Homo sapiens: one gene and its partner. The protein of the gene in region 1 binds, or shares a complex with, the protein of each later gene. Each region holds a gene or a part of one and is shown on either strand. Other genes may lie near its edges.

Evidence for each region.
Region 2: the proteins of PI4KB (region 1) and ACBD3 are in contact, whole or in part, in an NMR structure (PDB 2N73), measured with the Homo sapiens proteins. Residues at the interface, in NP_001317650.1 of Homo sapiens: Val37, Gly38, Val42, Ile43, Asp44, Pro45, Val47, Ala48, Gln49, Lys50, Ala51, Cys52, Glu54, Val55, Leu56, Val59, Lys60, His63; in NP_073572.2 of Homo sapiens: Gln245, Ile246, Ala249, Leu250, Gln253, Thr254, Gln257, Phe258, Tyr261, Gln265, Tyr266, Leu276, Leu280, Gln283, His284, Gln287, Tyr288, Gln291, Leu292, Val295.

Annotation. Positions count from the first base shown.
Region 1 is NC_000001.11:151,324,284-151,331,762, reverse strand, and holds the start of PI4KB (phosphatidylinositol 4-kinase beta), read left to right. Parts: upstream 1-4,346; 5' UTR 4,347-4,492; intron 4,493-5,389; exon of another isoform or gene 5,390-5,583; coding exon of another isoform or gene 5,584-5,591; intron 5,592-6,845; exon of another isoform or gene 6,846-7,018; intron 7,019-7,479. UniProt on the Homo sapiens protein: Phosphorylates phosphatidylinositol (PI) in the first committed step in the production of the second messenger inositol-1,4,5,-trisphosphate (PIP). May regulate Golgi disintegration/reorganization during mitosis, possibly via its phosphorylation.
Region 2 is NC_000001.11:226,183,724-226,191,069, reverse strand, and holds the start of ACBD3 (Golgi resident protein GCP60), read left to right. Parts: upstream 1-4,328; 5' UTR 4,329-4,394; coding exon 4,395-4,680; intron 4,681-7,346. UniProt on the Homo sapiens protein: Involved in the maintenance of Golgi structure by interacting with giantin, affecting protein transport between the endoplasmic reticulum and Golgi. Involved in hormone-induced steroid biosynthesis in testicular Leydig cells.

The DNA of each region.
Region 1 (7,479 bases):
CACTTGAGGTCAGGAGTTTGAGACCAGCCTGGCCAACATGGTGAAACACTGTCTCTACGAAAATAACAAAAATTAGCTGGGTGTGGTGGTGGGTGCCTGTAATCCCAGCTACTTAGGAAGCTAAGGCAGGAGAATGGCTCCAACCCGGGAGGCGGAGGTTGCAGTGAGCTGAGATGGCACCACTGCACTCCAGCCTGGACAACAGAGTGAGACTCTGTCTCAATTAAAAAAAAAAAAAAGAAAAAGAAAAAAATATATATATAAAATATATATATATATATATATGAACTAAATCATTTTTGAAAAATAACTATATTTTCCGAAACAAGAAAAAAAATCAATGAGACAATTGGCATTGTTTTTAAAGGGGGAAATTTCTTTAATGTCAGACTGGGTTCTCATATCTGCTTCTGCATTCAATCTTTGTGTGTGTGTGTGTGTATGTGTGTGTGTGTGTGTGTCTCACTCTGTCACCCAGGCTGGAGTGCAGTGGCATGATTGCAGCTCACTGCAACCTCTACCTCCCAGGTTCAAGCAATTCTCCTGCCTAAGCCTTCCCACAGGTGCATACTACCACGTCTCGCTAATTTTTGTGATTTTGGTAGAGACACAGTGGCTCACACCTATAATCCCAGCGTTTTGGGAGGCCAAGGTGGGCAGATCACCTGAGGTTGGGAGTTCGAGACCAGCCTGGGCAACATGGTGAAACCCCATCTCTACTAAAAATACAAAAATTAGCTGGGCGTGGTGGCGTGCACCTGTAATCCCAGCTACTTGGGAGGCTGAAGCACGACAATCGCTTGAATTCGGGAGGCAGAGTTTGCAGTGAGCTGAGATCACGCCACTGCACTCCAGCCTGGGCAAAAAAGCAAGACCCTGTCTCAAAAAAAACAAAAACAAAAAACAGAAGATGATAAAAAAAAAAAAAAGAAACCCTCCCGAAAACGGCAGAAAGACAGTCATAAAGGGATGCAAAGAAATTTATACATATGGGCCAGGCACAGTGGCTCACGCCTGTAATCCCAGCACTTTAGGAGGCCGAGGCGGGCGGATCACGAGTTCAAGAGATCAAGACCATCCTGGCCAACATGGTGAAACCCCGTCTCTACTAAAAATACAAAAATTAGCTGGGCATGGTGACGCATGCCTGTAATCCCAGCTACTCGGGAGGCTGAGGCAGAAGAATCGCTTGAATCCAGGAGGTGGAGGAGGGTCCCTTGAGCCAAGATTGCACCATTGCACTCCAGCCTGGGCGACAGAGGGAGACTCTGTCTCAAAAAGAAAAAAAAAAGAAAGAAAGAAATTTATACATATGAACCCTTAGAGCTATAAATAGGAAACTTAAAATCTTCTACTTATGTTTGTGTGTGTGTGTATTTTTAGTAGGGTGGTCTATAACTGACTAGCTATAAAAAGTTCCTGCTTCAAATTTGAAGAGATGTTTCTGAAATTTTTTCTGTCATTGGAAAATAAGAAAACTTCCTACTATAAAAAAGGTTGTCACATGTCTTTCTACAATGTTTCAAAAGGCTAGTCTTGTGGCTGTTTGGAAGGTTATCCCTTGAGGGGATACATGACATTTTAAACTCTAGGCTAAAGCAGGGTCATCGCCTCATGATATTTGCGGGACAGCTGATTGGAAGCTGGCCAAGAGCTGGTGGGCCTAACATGTGGACTGGTGATTCTCCCCAATCCAGACCAGTGGTGAGAATTTTTTTTTTTTTTTTGAGATGGAGTCTCGCTCTGTTGCCCAGGCTGGAGTGCAATGGCGCAATCTCGGCTCACTGCAACCTCTGCCTCTCAGGTTCAAGTGATTCCCTGCCTCACCCTCCCTAGTAGCTGGGATTATAGGCACCCACCACCATGCCCAGCTAATTTTTGTATTTTTAGTAGAGACAGGGTTTCACCAAGTCGGTCAGGCTGGTCTCAAACTCCTGACCTCGACTGATCCACCCACCTCGGACTCCCAAAGTGCTGGGATTACAGGCGTGAGCCACCACGCCAAGCCGATTTTTTTTTTTGAGACAGGGTCTCACTCCGTTGTCCAGGCTGGAGTGCAGTGGCATGATCTTGGCTCACTGCAGCCTCTGTCTCCCAGGCTCAAGTGATCCTCCTACCTCAGCCTCCTAAGTAGCTGGGACTACAGGTGCATGCCACCATGCCAGCTAGGCTAATTTTTGTATTTTTGAAGAGACGTGGTTTCACCATGTTGCCCAGGCTGGTCTCAAACCCCTGAGCTCAAGCAATCTGCCCACCTCAGCCTCCCAAAGTGCTGGGATTACAGGTGTGAGCCACTGTGCCCAGCTGACAAATTTAAACTATCTTTGGCACTCTTGTCCCCATTCTTTGTTCATCTTTCATACTGTACTCCTGCTTTAACCTAGCTTGTCTGCTTGCCCTCTCCTCATGATATGAGCAAATTCCCATTTATATTCTTCAACATACAATTTTTTTGCTTTCAGAATGCTCGCTTGTCTTTTATTTTGCTGGGTTATATCCAATATCTATTCTAAGACCTGACTCACAATATTTCTAAGAAGCCTTCCATTCATTCATTCACCATATACTGGTGTGTGTGTGTGTGTGTGTGTGTGTGTGTGTGTGTGTATGTGTGTGTGTCCATACACATATAGGCCTTCCAAATTAACTTAAACTCCACTATGTCCCTTCAGCAATTAGGTTAGGTACCCCATTTGTTCTACTGTTGTATATACTGCATGTTTTACACAGGCATTTTCAAGCTATTACACTTTATTCTGCCTTCCAATTAAACATTGTAGCAGTGACTCTTTCATCATCTATCCTGTATGATTGTCCCAATAATTAATAATAAAGTACTATAGTAGCAACTTGTACTCTCTTGATCCTAACAAAACCCTGTAATGGGCTAATATTACTTCATCCATATGTCTTCTTTGTAGACATAGAAACTGAGGTTTAAAGAGGTTACATTAGTTATTCCAAATCAAACGGCTTGTAAGTGGCAGGGAAGATGGCATTCAAGACCCGGGCTCAAATAACTAGCCTCAATGTATTAAGTAAGGCACTAATGAGGGGCATTGCATATTAAGTAAAGCCCTAGGAAAGGCATTGAGATAGAGGTTCTGAGGACAAAGAGGGCTCTAAATCAACAATCTTAACCGAAAAATACACAAAAAACTTGCTGGGCGAGGTCGGGCCTATAATCCCAGCACTTTGGTACCTGAGGCCGGCAGATTGCTTGAGGCTAACAGTTCGAGACAAGCTTGGGCAACATAGCAAGACCCTGTCTTTACAAAACAAACAAACAAACGAAAAATACACAAAAGCAACACCAGAGGCCCATTTGCATGGCGTGTTTTTGTTTATTTGTTTGGCCTAATATGGTTTCGTTTTGTTTGGAAGAAGGGATTGTGCCCTCCAAGCCTTTGTCGTTTCACTCACCTCTCCCAACCTGGCCCTGTCCAGCCCCTCCCTGGAGGGCTGGGCATATGGATGCTGGAGGTCACAGGCTGCCCAGGCAGGTTGGTGACCTCGGAGGCAGAACCACGGCCTCGAGTCGGGCCTCTAACGGCGAAAAGACTGACGCGGTTGGACCGCGCCATTCCCGAAATGTTAAGGAGCTTAAACTCCGCATCGTCCTCCAAGATAAGTAGGAAAAGGGCAGTCAGAAAGAACGTCTTCCCCGTCCGCCGTCTTCCTGCGCGCCCTTCTAGGAACCCAGCGTCCATCCCACGGCCTGATTTACTAAGGGAGTCTTGTAGCATACGGGAGGGGGAAAAGTCATTGATTGCAATTACGGTAATTTGGTTAGTTACTCAAACGGTCGTTTACATATAACTTGCATGTTAATATACTTCTGGAAGTATGCATATGTCCATACTTCTTTAACAGGGCACCCACGGCCGCCTGCTCACCCTACTTATGCAGCAAATTTTACTTCTCTCTCGGCTTCTTTAGCCTCGCAAACGCTATCGCTTAGGTCCGCTTCTTAAATATTGGCCCCTCCTCCCACCCGTAAGCTCCTCCCTTCGCCCTCTCTCCCTCGAGAGCTTCCAAACATCTTTTCCCCGCCCCCTTTTCTATTTCTGAACAGGCATGTTCCAGGCAGCTCACCCGACTCCTTAGATTACTATGGAATCGGTAGGGTCCTGACCGCTGGGGAAGCAGGAAAGCGTATCCTGGGAAGAAAGGCTTGGCTTGGACTCCGGAGAAGAATACTACATCGAGACCTGCTGGGGAATTTTATTTTATTTTATTATTTTTTTGGTCTTGGTTGTACTGAGGGAGGAAGAAGAGGTTGTGTGGCCCGGTCGAACTTGTGGCAGCCTGAAGGCCCCCTCAGGCGGCGCCGCGGGCAGCCCCGCAGCCGGGGCCTGGTGCAGCCTCCGCGGCCGCTGTCAGGGAAGCGCAGGCGGCCAATGGAACCCGGGAGCGGTCGCTGCTGCTGAGGCGGCAGTGTCGGCAGTCCAACCGCGACTGCCCGCACCCCCTCCGCGGGGGTCCCCCAGAGGTAAGCTACTCCTCCTTCATGAGTCACCTTTGCCCTGTTGGGTGGGGGGGGGGGTCCCTCTCCCACCCTGTCCCGCACAGTCTTCCCCACCTGAGTTCGACTACGAAACTGCCCTCTTGGTGTCAGCTGCACCCCGGGTTCCTTCTCCACCCTTTCCTCTCAGGCCTGGGGTCCTCCTCCGCTTTTTGGCTTCCTCTTCTATTAGCTCCTCCCTCTGCCTCGGGGATTCCCCCCTCCCTCACTCATCCCTGTTGCCTACGTCTCGAATAATTCTTTTTTTTAAGTCATGAACCCTTTCCATATCAGACGACTCCCATAATGCCCATCCTTGTCCTTCCTCGTCGTCTCTGCCCCTGCCCCAAACCTTTTCCATGGACTCCACCTTTATCTCTTTTCCTAGTTTGCACTTTTCCTCCTATGTCCCTGTGCAACTCCAGCACTGGGTTCCCATTTCCCTGAGCTAAAGATTGCATCCCTGTCTTCCTGTGCTGCTTCTGATTCCATTACCTCACTGTCACCCACCTACCCAGCCAGCTCCTGGCTTCCAAGAATTGCCTGTTCCCTTCTCCTTAAGGGATCTCGGGCCCTTGTCATCAATCCAAAAGTACCATTTACATTCTTACTTTGAACCTAGTCCTCACTCTTCTCTGGGATGCATTATGATCCCTATAACTTTCTTTAGCTTCTCTTTCTCCCTCCTCAATCCCCCAACTTTCTAGAGGTTTCTGTCTGTAGGGGAGAGATTTGACAGTGCCCTTCCCATTCAGGATTTCCAACTTTGACACCTCCCTCGAGTTTCAGGGATTTCTCTGATCCTTGTGACATTTGTTCTGTTTTTCCCGTGGGCTTCATGTGTTCTCTGTTACACTCTTTATCTCCACATACCACTTATTTCAGGATCAACTAAACCTTGAACTAAGAAGAAAAATGTGTTGTGAGCAGGGGGAGCCTCAGCTGCCTCAGGCCGTTCAGGACAGAAGGGTGTTTCTGAAGGCCGGAGCAAGTTTTGAAGAAGTCCCTATCAGATTACACTTGGTTGACTACTCCGGAGCAGCCACTAAGAGGGATGAACAGGCCTGCGTGGAAATTGAATGAGATTGTGAGAAAACTTGTTTCAGATTATTTAATTTTAGGCTTTTGTTAAAGGAATCACAGAATAGAGTGCCTTCTCACCCCTGTCCAGATCCATGAGGAATCAGTTTATTCTTGTGGTTTACTAGAATAGTTTTGGTTGGTTCCATAAGAATTCAGGCCTGGAGTGGGGTAAGGGTATAACTGGAAAAAGGAACATGAGACAATGGAAAGAGCTTGTACATTCAGAATCGGGACTCCTGGGTTCAGCATGTGACTTCCTCACTTGACCTCTAGAGTGATCCTTTTGGAAAATGCCCACTCTCTGTAGGCATCAGTGCAGTAATAAGTTGGTAGCAGGATGTGGGTTGGGGGAAAAAATCAGATTTGGTTTATTTGTTTACAAAACATTTTGGGTTCCTCAGGCAAAAGGTATTTATTAGTAGTGGTTTAGTCATCCTGAGAATTTTCCTTCACCTTGGTCTTTCTGTCAGATGTTTCTAGTCCACAACCAGGGGTGTAAGTCATTTTGAAAGACAAGCTCCAGGCCTGCTTCCTTCATCTGCTTTGCTTTTTCCCCCAGTGCATTAAGTGGCTGATTTTCTGTCCTGTTCCTCACGTACTTGATCCATAACTCCAGATTCTATAGGTAGAAAGTATGTTTGTGGGAAAGCACTTTGAGGAAGCTGGCTGGAAAAGAGAACTTGGAGTGAACTGAGACTTAGGCAACTAGTTGCTGCCATGTCTCTCTCAGCCTGTGATAGCGAAAGGGCACGTGAGATTCCATTCATTTTCTGATTCTAGGTCTGTTTGGGAGTAGTTATGTCATCTTATCCCACTTCCTTTCTCTTCCTTGTCGTTAGTCATGGTGCAGTCTCCTCATAATTCCCCTTATTAGAAGCTTTCCTGCCAGGCGCGGTGGCTCACACCTGTAATCCCAGCATTTTGGGAGGCCGAGGCAGGCAGATCACCCGAGGTCAGGAGTTCAAGACCAGTCCGGCCAACATGGTGAAACCCCATCTCTACTAAAAATACAAAAAATTAGCCGGGCATGGTGGCGAGCTTCTGTAATCCCAGCTACTCCGGAGGCTGAAGCAGGAGAATTACTTGAACCCAGGAGGCGAAGGTTGCAGTGAGCCGAGATCACGCCACTGCACTCCAGCCTGGGTGACTGAGTGAAACTCTGTCTCAGGAAAAAAAAAAAAAAAAAAGCAGCTTTCCTCCTTGGAAGCATCCCCAACCAGAAATCATATTTCCTCTCATTTCCCTGCTTTCTTCTTAGAGTTGAGTCCACGCTCCATGAGAATGCTGAACACCATCCAAAGCAGCAAATTGAGATTCCTTGATTTGGGGAAGAGGTTTGGGAGGAACCCTTCAATAATTGGCATGGGACAAGAGGGGACCCAGTCCAAGTGTATTTGGGACTCGCAGTAGGGAGGAACAATTCAGAGAGAGGTGAGTGCACAGGCTGCTTTCTTTGCCATCTGTTTCAGTAGCGGCTCCCATAGCTGGCTTGGGCTGTCTGGCTGGAATCTGCTTATACCAGCTCCATGGCTCTGCACAGAGTTCTCAGCCTGAATCAATATTGACTTAACTACCATGAGACCACTGCCCTCCCTACCCTCGTGCTAGTAGCTTGAGAATGCCCTCTCCCCTAATGCCCACACTCTCTGGGCCCTTGTGTCAGCAGTTACCTGGATCCTGGTAGGGCTGGAGCTGGCTTGACTGCCTGGCCCTGAGTTTCTATAAGGAAAAAGGAGTACTCAATCTCTACCTTTACCATTGAGGTCAAAGGGGAGAGATGAGTTGAGACATCCTTAAAGAAAGGTTTGAGTTAGACATTAAGACATGAGGAGGAACTCCTCAACAGCAGAACAGGCAGTCAAAGATGATATGGAGTCTCTTTTGAGGAGCAA
Region 2 (7,346 bases), about 75 Mb from region 1:
CATCATATTGTAAACTTTAATATTTGCAGTTTATTATACAACAATTATACTCAATAAAGCATGGGAAAAACACGTTTCCTAGACTTGCTATTCAAAGTGTGGTCTGTAGACAGCAGCATCGGCATCACCAGAAAGCTTATGAGAAATGTATACTCTCAGGCCTCCCTCTATACCTACTGAGTCAGAATCTGCAGTTTAATAAGACATTCAGGTGAGCGTGTCTGGAACTCATCTCCCACAGTGAACTGTTAAAGCGAAGTTATATTCTCTAATTTTTTAATTTTATTTTTTAGAAACAGGGTCTCCTTCTGTCGCCCAGGCTGGAATGCAGTGACGCCATCATGGTTTACTGGAGCCTTGACCTCCCAGGCTCAAGTGATCCTTCCACCTCAGCCTCCCAAGTAGCTGGACCCTAGGCACATGCCACCATGCCCAGCTAATTTTTTATTTTTTGTAGAGACAGGGTCTTCCTATGCTGCCCAGGCTGTTCTCAAACTCCTGGGCTCGAACAATCCTCCTGCCTCAGCCTCCCAAAGTGCTGGGATTACAGGCATGACGCACTGTGCCAACCCCTAATGTTTTTAGTCATTAAGGGCAACCACCTACACAATGGCCCTTGATGTTTCGATTAGCAAGAGGTTCAGATGCTTGGTCTAGAGGATGTTTGGGTTTTCCAACCATATTCAATATGTTAAATTACAAAACAATAAAAAAGTCCATATAATTTTTTTTAATGTATGTCTTTTTTTGAGACAGTCTCTCTCCATCACCTAGGCTGGAGCGCAGTGGTGTGATCTTGGCTCACTGCAACATCCACCTCTCAGGTTCAAGCAATTCTCCTGCCTCAGCCTCCTGAGCAGCTGGGATTACAAGTGCCTACCACCACGCCCAGCTAATTTTTGTATAAAAAGTCCATGTAATTAATTAATTACCATATTTTACCTACCTTCCTAGGTATATTCTATAGGTTTTAATAATTATTGTATACTTTTTAAAAAAATAACTTTTTTTCTGATTACAAAAGAAATGCTTATCGTGAAAACTTGGAAAACAGAATCTAGCATTTCATGAAGAAGGGTTATATTTACCCTACTCATTATCATCCCAACAGTTATTGAATGTTAAAGGTAGAACACTGAGCAAAACACAGGGGAATATATATGTATATATAACATTTTGAAGGTTAGGCACATAATATGCATATTTTTAAGCTAATGAAGCTAAATATAAAGATCCAAGCTAAGTGGGAAGAACACAGACCTTAGAGCAGTAGAATTAGAGTTTTTAGTCCTCTACAACTAGAAGTGGGTTTACCATAAAGTTAATGAAGCTCAAGCTTCAGGGCCCCTTGCTTACACAGGCCCCTCCCAAGGCCCTTAGAGCGGCCTTAGCAGTATACACTTCTGTAACAGTTTTGAGAGTAAGATATTTAAGACCTCTGTCTTCGTTTCTAACTTCCCTTCGTCATCCTCCTCTGGTTAGGAGGTATTGAAATGGCTATAGGCTTTGTGGGGGATTTGGCTAAGGGGACAATGAATAGGGATACATTTAATTTGGGGTCAGTGGCATGCATTTAAGTGGTTTGCAGTCACTTCTGCATGTTTTTAAATTATTGCTCACCATGGGTGTAGGAATGGCTTTCTGGAATATACCTACTGCCCATTATGTCAATTCAGCCAGCACCATGTCACAAAAGTGCAAGGCCAAAGGGCGAAGGAACCCTATGTTGCCTGACACAGGAAGTACTTGGGTAGTGGAGGAGCAACAAGGTTTGAAAGAAAAGAAAGAGCTAGTAAAATTCTTCCATTCTTTTTCCTCTTCTGGGGATGTTGTCTATAGGCACATAGAATGGTCCAGCGTTTGACATACTGTTGTAGGCTTTCCTACAATACAGCTTCTAATAAAACTAGGCTGTCCTGAACCCCTGGTAATATAATTGCTTACCTTTATACCAAGAAGGCTGGGAAAGCACCAAAATCTACTGTGGTGTGTACCCACGCAGACTTCAAGGGGTTCGTGCTATAAGACCCGAAGTCTTATGAGATTGTCCAAAACACAAAAAACCATGTCAGCAGGGCCTATGGTGGTTCCATGTGTGCTATATGTGTTTGTGACAGGATCAAGCATGTTTTCCTTATCGAGGAAAAGAAAATCATTGTGAGAGTGTTGAAGGCACAAGCACAGGGTCAGAAAGCTAAATAAAAAATGAAGCTTCTTTGAGTAATTAAAATTAAAAGACTTAAAAATATGCTTCCAACCATCAGAAGTGGAAGATTATAAGGAGAGGGATCAATTCTCTCAATGCCTAATCAAAATGAAGGTTCTCACTCACTGAGAATCTAAGTCATATCTGCAATTATAACTGCACCATACTTCATGTTTTTATGTGAAGCATGCAAAAGGGAATAGATTAGAAACCCTATGTTTATGGGACAAAAACTTATAGTTGTACTACAGTGAGTCTGTCTGTATGTGAAGTTATATGTCTTATCCACCGTAATGAATGAGATCCTGTCTGAATGCAGCATACAAATCTTGTCCTGAAAAAAACCCTCGGCCAGGCGCGGTGGCTCACGCCTGTAATCCCAGCACTTTGGGAGGCCGAGGCGGGCATATCACAAGGTCAGGAGATTGAGACCATCCTGGCTAACACGGTGAAACCTCGTCTCTACTAAAAATACAAAAAAATTAGCCGGGCATGGTGGTGGGCACCTATAGTCCCAGCTACTCAGGAGGCTGAGGCAGGAGAATGGCGTGAACCCTGGAGGCGGAGCTTGCAGTGAGCCAAGATCGCGCCACTGCACTCCAGCGTGGGCGACAGAGAGAGACTCCGTCTCAAAAAAAAGAAAAAAACTCTCTAGGGCTTCAGTAAAAACCACACACAAAATTGTCACTGAAGCAGCCAAACGGCCATAAAAATCTCATAGCACATCCATGAAACTTGAGAGAGGTTTCCCAAACTGAACAATAACCCTAAAAAAGTACGTTAACAATATCAGTAATGAGTTGTGATGCTGAAATAAATTTATAAACAATTATTAAGAAACAAATTTAATCAGCCATGCTGGAGAAAAGACTGATCTTTCTCTTTTCTTTATAGAGAATTACAAAATACGCCGGGCGCGGTGGCTCTCACCTGTAATCCCAGCACTTTGGGGAGGCTGAGGCGGGCAGATCACATGAGGTCAGGAGTTTGAGACCAGCCTGGCCAACATGGGGAAACTCTGACTCTACTAAGTTTACAAAAATTAGCCGGGCGTGGTGGTGAGCACCTGTAATCCCAACTACTTGGGAGGCTGAGGCAGGAGAGTTGCTTGAACCCGGGAGGCAGAGGTTGCAGTGAACCGAATTGCACCACTACACTCCAGCCTGGGTGGCACAGCAGGACTGTCTGCAAAAAACAAAAAAAAAAAAAAAAAAAAAAAGTTACAAAATAATTGTTATAGGAAAAGGCAATCAGAAGTACGCAGCCAAAACAAAGGTGGGAAAAATGATCATAAATGGTGCTCCCAAAGTCTGGAAACACAGGTGAATATACATAATGTCGGGGGCGACTTCAATCTTTTAGAAAAAAATAGGTTTCTGGGCTCTCAGACGCCCTGTAGAAGAATATCAGGCAGTCAATGAAAATATTACGGTTATGTGTGTGATGTTTGTGGGTTTTATTAACTTTTAAAATATCATTTGTTTTTTCTTTCTCTTTCTAAATATACATTCACTTTCCTACCCTTCTGCGCGTAACTTTTTGTACTCTTTCCTAATGAGGGTCCCCACAAATTGTATGAGCTGCGCTTCCTGCAAAACCAGGATCAGCCCCGTCTGCAACCTCAAAGTCACTGAATTTCTCTGCAGTCTCAGTTTCCCCTTTTAAAAAAATTGGGAATTTGCCCTGCATTTCCTTAGAGTTGCTGTGAAGGCCAAACGAGATGGTGGTGGGCAAAAGAGCTCTGCCAACCACGCAGGCCCCTGCAAATGTGAAGGGCCTCTGACCTGGAGGGTTGGGTGCTGGCCGACCTCGTCAATCCTCCCTACTCCGACCCCCGCGCGGGGCTCCACTGACCCCGCCCCTGCTGGGCACTGACAGCCGCAGCACCGAACCGAGCGGTGGGGGTGGTAGCACCCGCCCACCTGGAGCAACTGGGATCCGAAAGGATGGGGTGCGGGGGAGGGGAGTTCGGGACCAACGGGAGTTGGGGAGCCTGAAGGGTGGTCGCTGAGCCAGGGCAACTGACGATTCCGGAGGGGGTGGGGCGCCAGGCCTCAGCCCCTCTCCCGGAGCCCTCCAGCCTCCTCAGCAGCGGAAGTTCCGGTGTCGGTAAGCGGAGGTCAGAGGTCAGCAGGAAGTCGATACGTGGCTGCCGTCTGTCCCCGCTGAGGAGGTGCAGCAGCCGGAGATGGCGGCGGTGCTGAACGCAGAGCGACTCGAGGTGTCCGTCGACGGCCTCACGCTCAGCCCGGACCCGGAGGAGCGGCCTGGGGCGGAGGGCGCCCCGCTGCTGCCGCCACCGCTGCCACCGCCCTCGCCACCTGGATCCGGTCGCGGCCCGGGCGCCTCAGGGGAGCAGCCCGAGCCCGGGGAGGCGGCGGCTGGGGGCGCGGCGGAGGAGGCGCGGCGGCTGGAGCAGCGCTGGGGTTTCGGCCTGGAGGAGTTGTACGGCCTGGCACTGCGCTTCTTCAAAGGTGAGCCGGGCCAGCCCCACCCCCGCCGCTTCTGCCCGGCCCCGGGAGCCCGGCGTGGGCTGTGGTCCCCAGGGTGACTGGACCAGACTTGCCCTCACCCACTCATACTGGGCTGTGGTGACTCAAGCGGGGTTCCCTCCTTGGGGGTACCCGAAGTTTGTCACTACCCGCTTGGCCACTAGGTCACACCCCTGACGGGCCTGCAACCTTGGTTTAGCAGTCATGTCCCGCCTCCCAGAGGTTACCGGGACATTTTACCTGATTTAGCTTCTGGGATTTCCAGGAGCCCTGGTGGAAGAATGAGCCCACTTTCTTCCAAAGGATCCCATTCTGGGATTGCCTTTTATTATTATTATTTTTTTAACTGACGCTTTTCTTTTCCTATTTCCCATGGCTTGTCACATCAGAACCCGCCGATTTTTACCCTTAGTGGAAGAAATCTGTCAAGAGGTTCCATACATAGCTTTTCCAGCCATTCTTGGGAACCATAAACTGGAACAGGACTTGATCCCCCGGCAGATTGATGTGGCAGAGAGGAGGAAGTAAAGTGTTAAGCTCATCATCCTCTCCGGCTTGTCAAACTCTTGAGGAGAGATGTCCACTATGTTCTAGTAACTTCTAGGTGGTTAAAATTTTACATTGTAAGCAATGTGCAAGAGTGAATTCTCAGAGTAAGGCCTAACAGTACCTTCTGTGCTTTTCGCATAATTAATTGTTAAATGTCTCTTGTCTTAGAGCAAGATTGTAGTGTGCGGTTTTTTTTTTTTTTAATTGGGTGATTCACTTAGTCGAATGGTGGAGAGACCAATCACATGATTTTTGTCAGTGGGAAAAACTGATGAAAGCCCGTTAGTTTGATTCTTAAAGATACTTAGTCTTGTAGGGCGAATGGACAGGGAGGGACATCAGCAAATGCAACTTTAAAAGTGGTTGCTAGGTTCCACGTACATTCCAGAGCAGCATATTTATGACACTTTCCCCAGAGGGAGTACCTTTTGGAGTACATATTTTACTAGCCAAAGTTGAGTAGTTCAATGTAATGATACACACGGAAGTTGTTTTCTCTCAAAATAACTTTAATTGTGCAAACTAGTGAAAGTTTTATAAATTTTCCAGAACATTTGATCATTTCACATTCAATGACATATTCGTGGTCATTGCACAATGAGTTGAGCCCTCTGTGTACTAACTAGCTTGGGGAATTGGTAATGGCTAATGGGTTTTGGATCATTTGACTTTTAGATCACCGGCTTGAATTTAGAGTTTGCTGTAGTGATGATATATTACCACTTGATAAAAATCAGGTGGTTTCTGTACAATTCATATAGCTACATTCCATCTTAAATTTTTATTCTTGGAACTTATTTTTCAGTAAAGTATATTGTAGCAGAGAGTAAGAGTAGAAATGAACTAATTCCTTTTTTTTTTTTTTTTTGAGCTGGAGTCCTGCTCTGTTGCAGGACTGAGGGAGGCTGAGGCAGGAGAATCACTTGAACCCGGGAGGCGGAGGTTGCAGTGAGCCAAGATGGCACCATTGTACTCCAGCCTGGGCGACGAGCAAAACTCCGTCTAAAAAAAAAAAAAGAATCGCTTCAATATGGGAGGCAGAGGTTGCAGTGAGCCGAGATCATGCCACTGCACTCCATCCTGGGCGACAAAGTGAAATTCTGTCTCAAAACAAAGAAAAAGATTAAAACACTGTAACGTGTAGTATACTTAACATTGTTTGGAGAGTCAGGAAGCTCTGGATTCTAGTTACCTTGTAAACTAGACAATTAACTTTTCCAGAATCAGTTTCATATGTATAAAGGGAGCTGGATTCTATAAAATATGATGTCTCAGATTTAAGATTCAGTGGTCTTAACCTAACAGATTATTTTAACATGTGTCTTGAGTGGTAGGAATCCTGGGGAAACTTATAACTTGGGGCCTAGGTGTTAGTCACCTTAGAGAATAAAGCTACACTGATAGGTGTGGTTCACTCACTTCCTAAATGAAGTTCTCAAAGCAATATCCAGGTACTAAAAAGGAGAAATAGCTGTGTAGCAATTAAAAGCTACCTTTCTGCATGTGTCATTGGAGACTGTTAGTATATGAGACACTAACTGACAAAAGGGAAGGATGTAAAAGCAGTCAGAAGAATTATGGAATGTGGAGTGAGCCAAGTAATGCTGCCTTTGTTTTGTTTTTTGTTTTTGAGATAGAGTCTCACTCTGTCGCCCAGGCTGGAGTGCAGTGGTGCCATCTCGGGGCTCACTGCAAGCTCCACCTCCCGGATTCACTCCATTCTCCTGCCTCAGCCTCCCGAGTAGCTGGGACTACAGGTGCCCACCACCACGCCCGGCTAATTTTTTGTATTTTTCGTAGAGACGAGGTTTCACCGTGTTAGCCAGGATGGTCTCGATTTCCTGACCTCGTGATCCTCCTGCGTCAGCCTCCCAAAGTGCTGGGATTACAGGTGTGAGCCACTGTGCCCAGCCTGGTTTTTTTTTTTTTTTTTTTTTTTAGGCAGAGTTTGATTCTTGTTGCTCAGGCTAGAGTGCAATGGCGCGATCTCAGCTCACTGCAACCTCTGCCTCGAGGGTTCAAGTGATTCTCCTGCCTCTGCCTCCCGAGTAGCTGAGATTACAGGCATGTGCCACCACGCCCAGGTACTTTTGTATTTC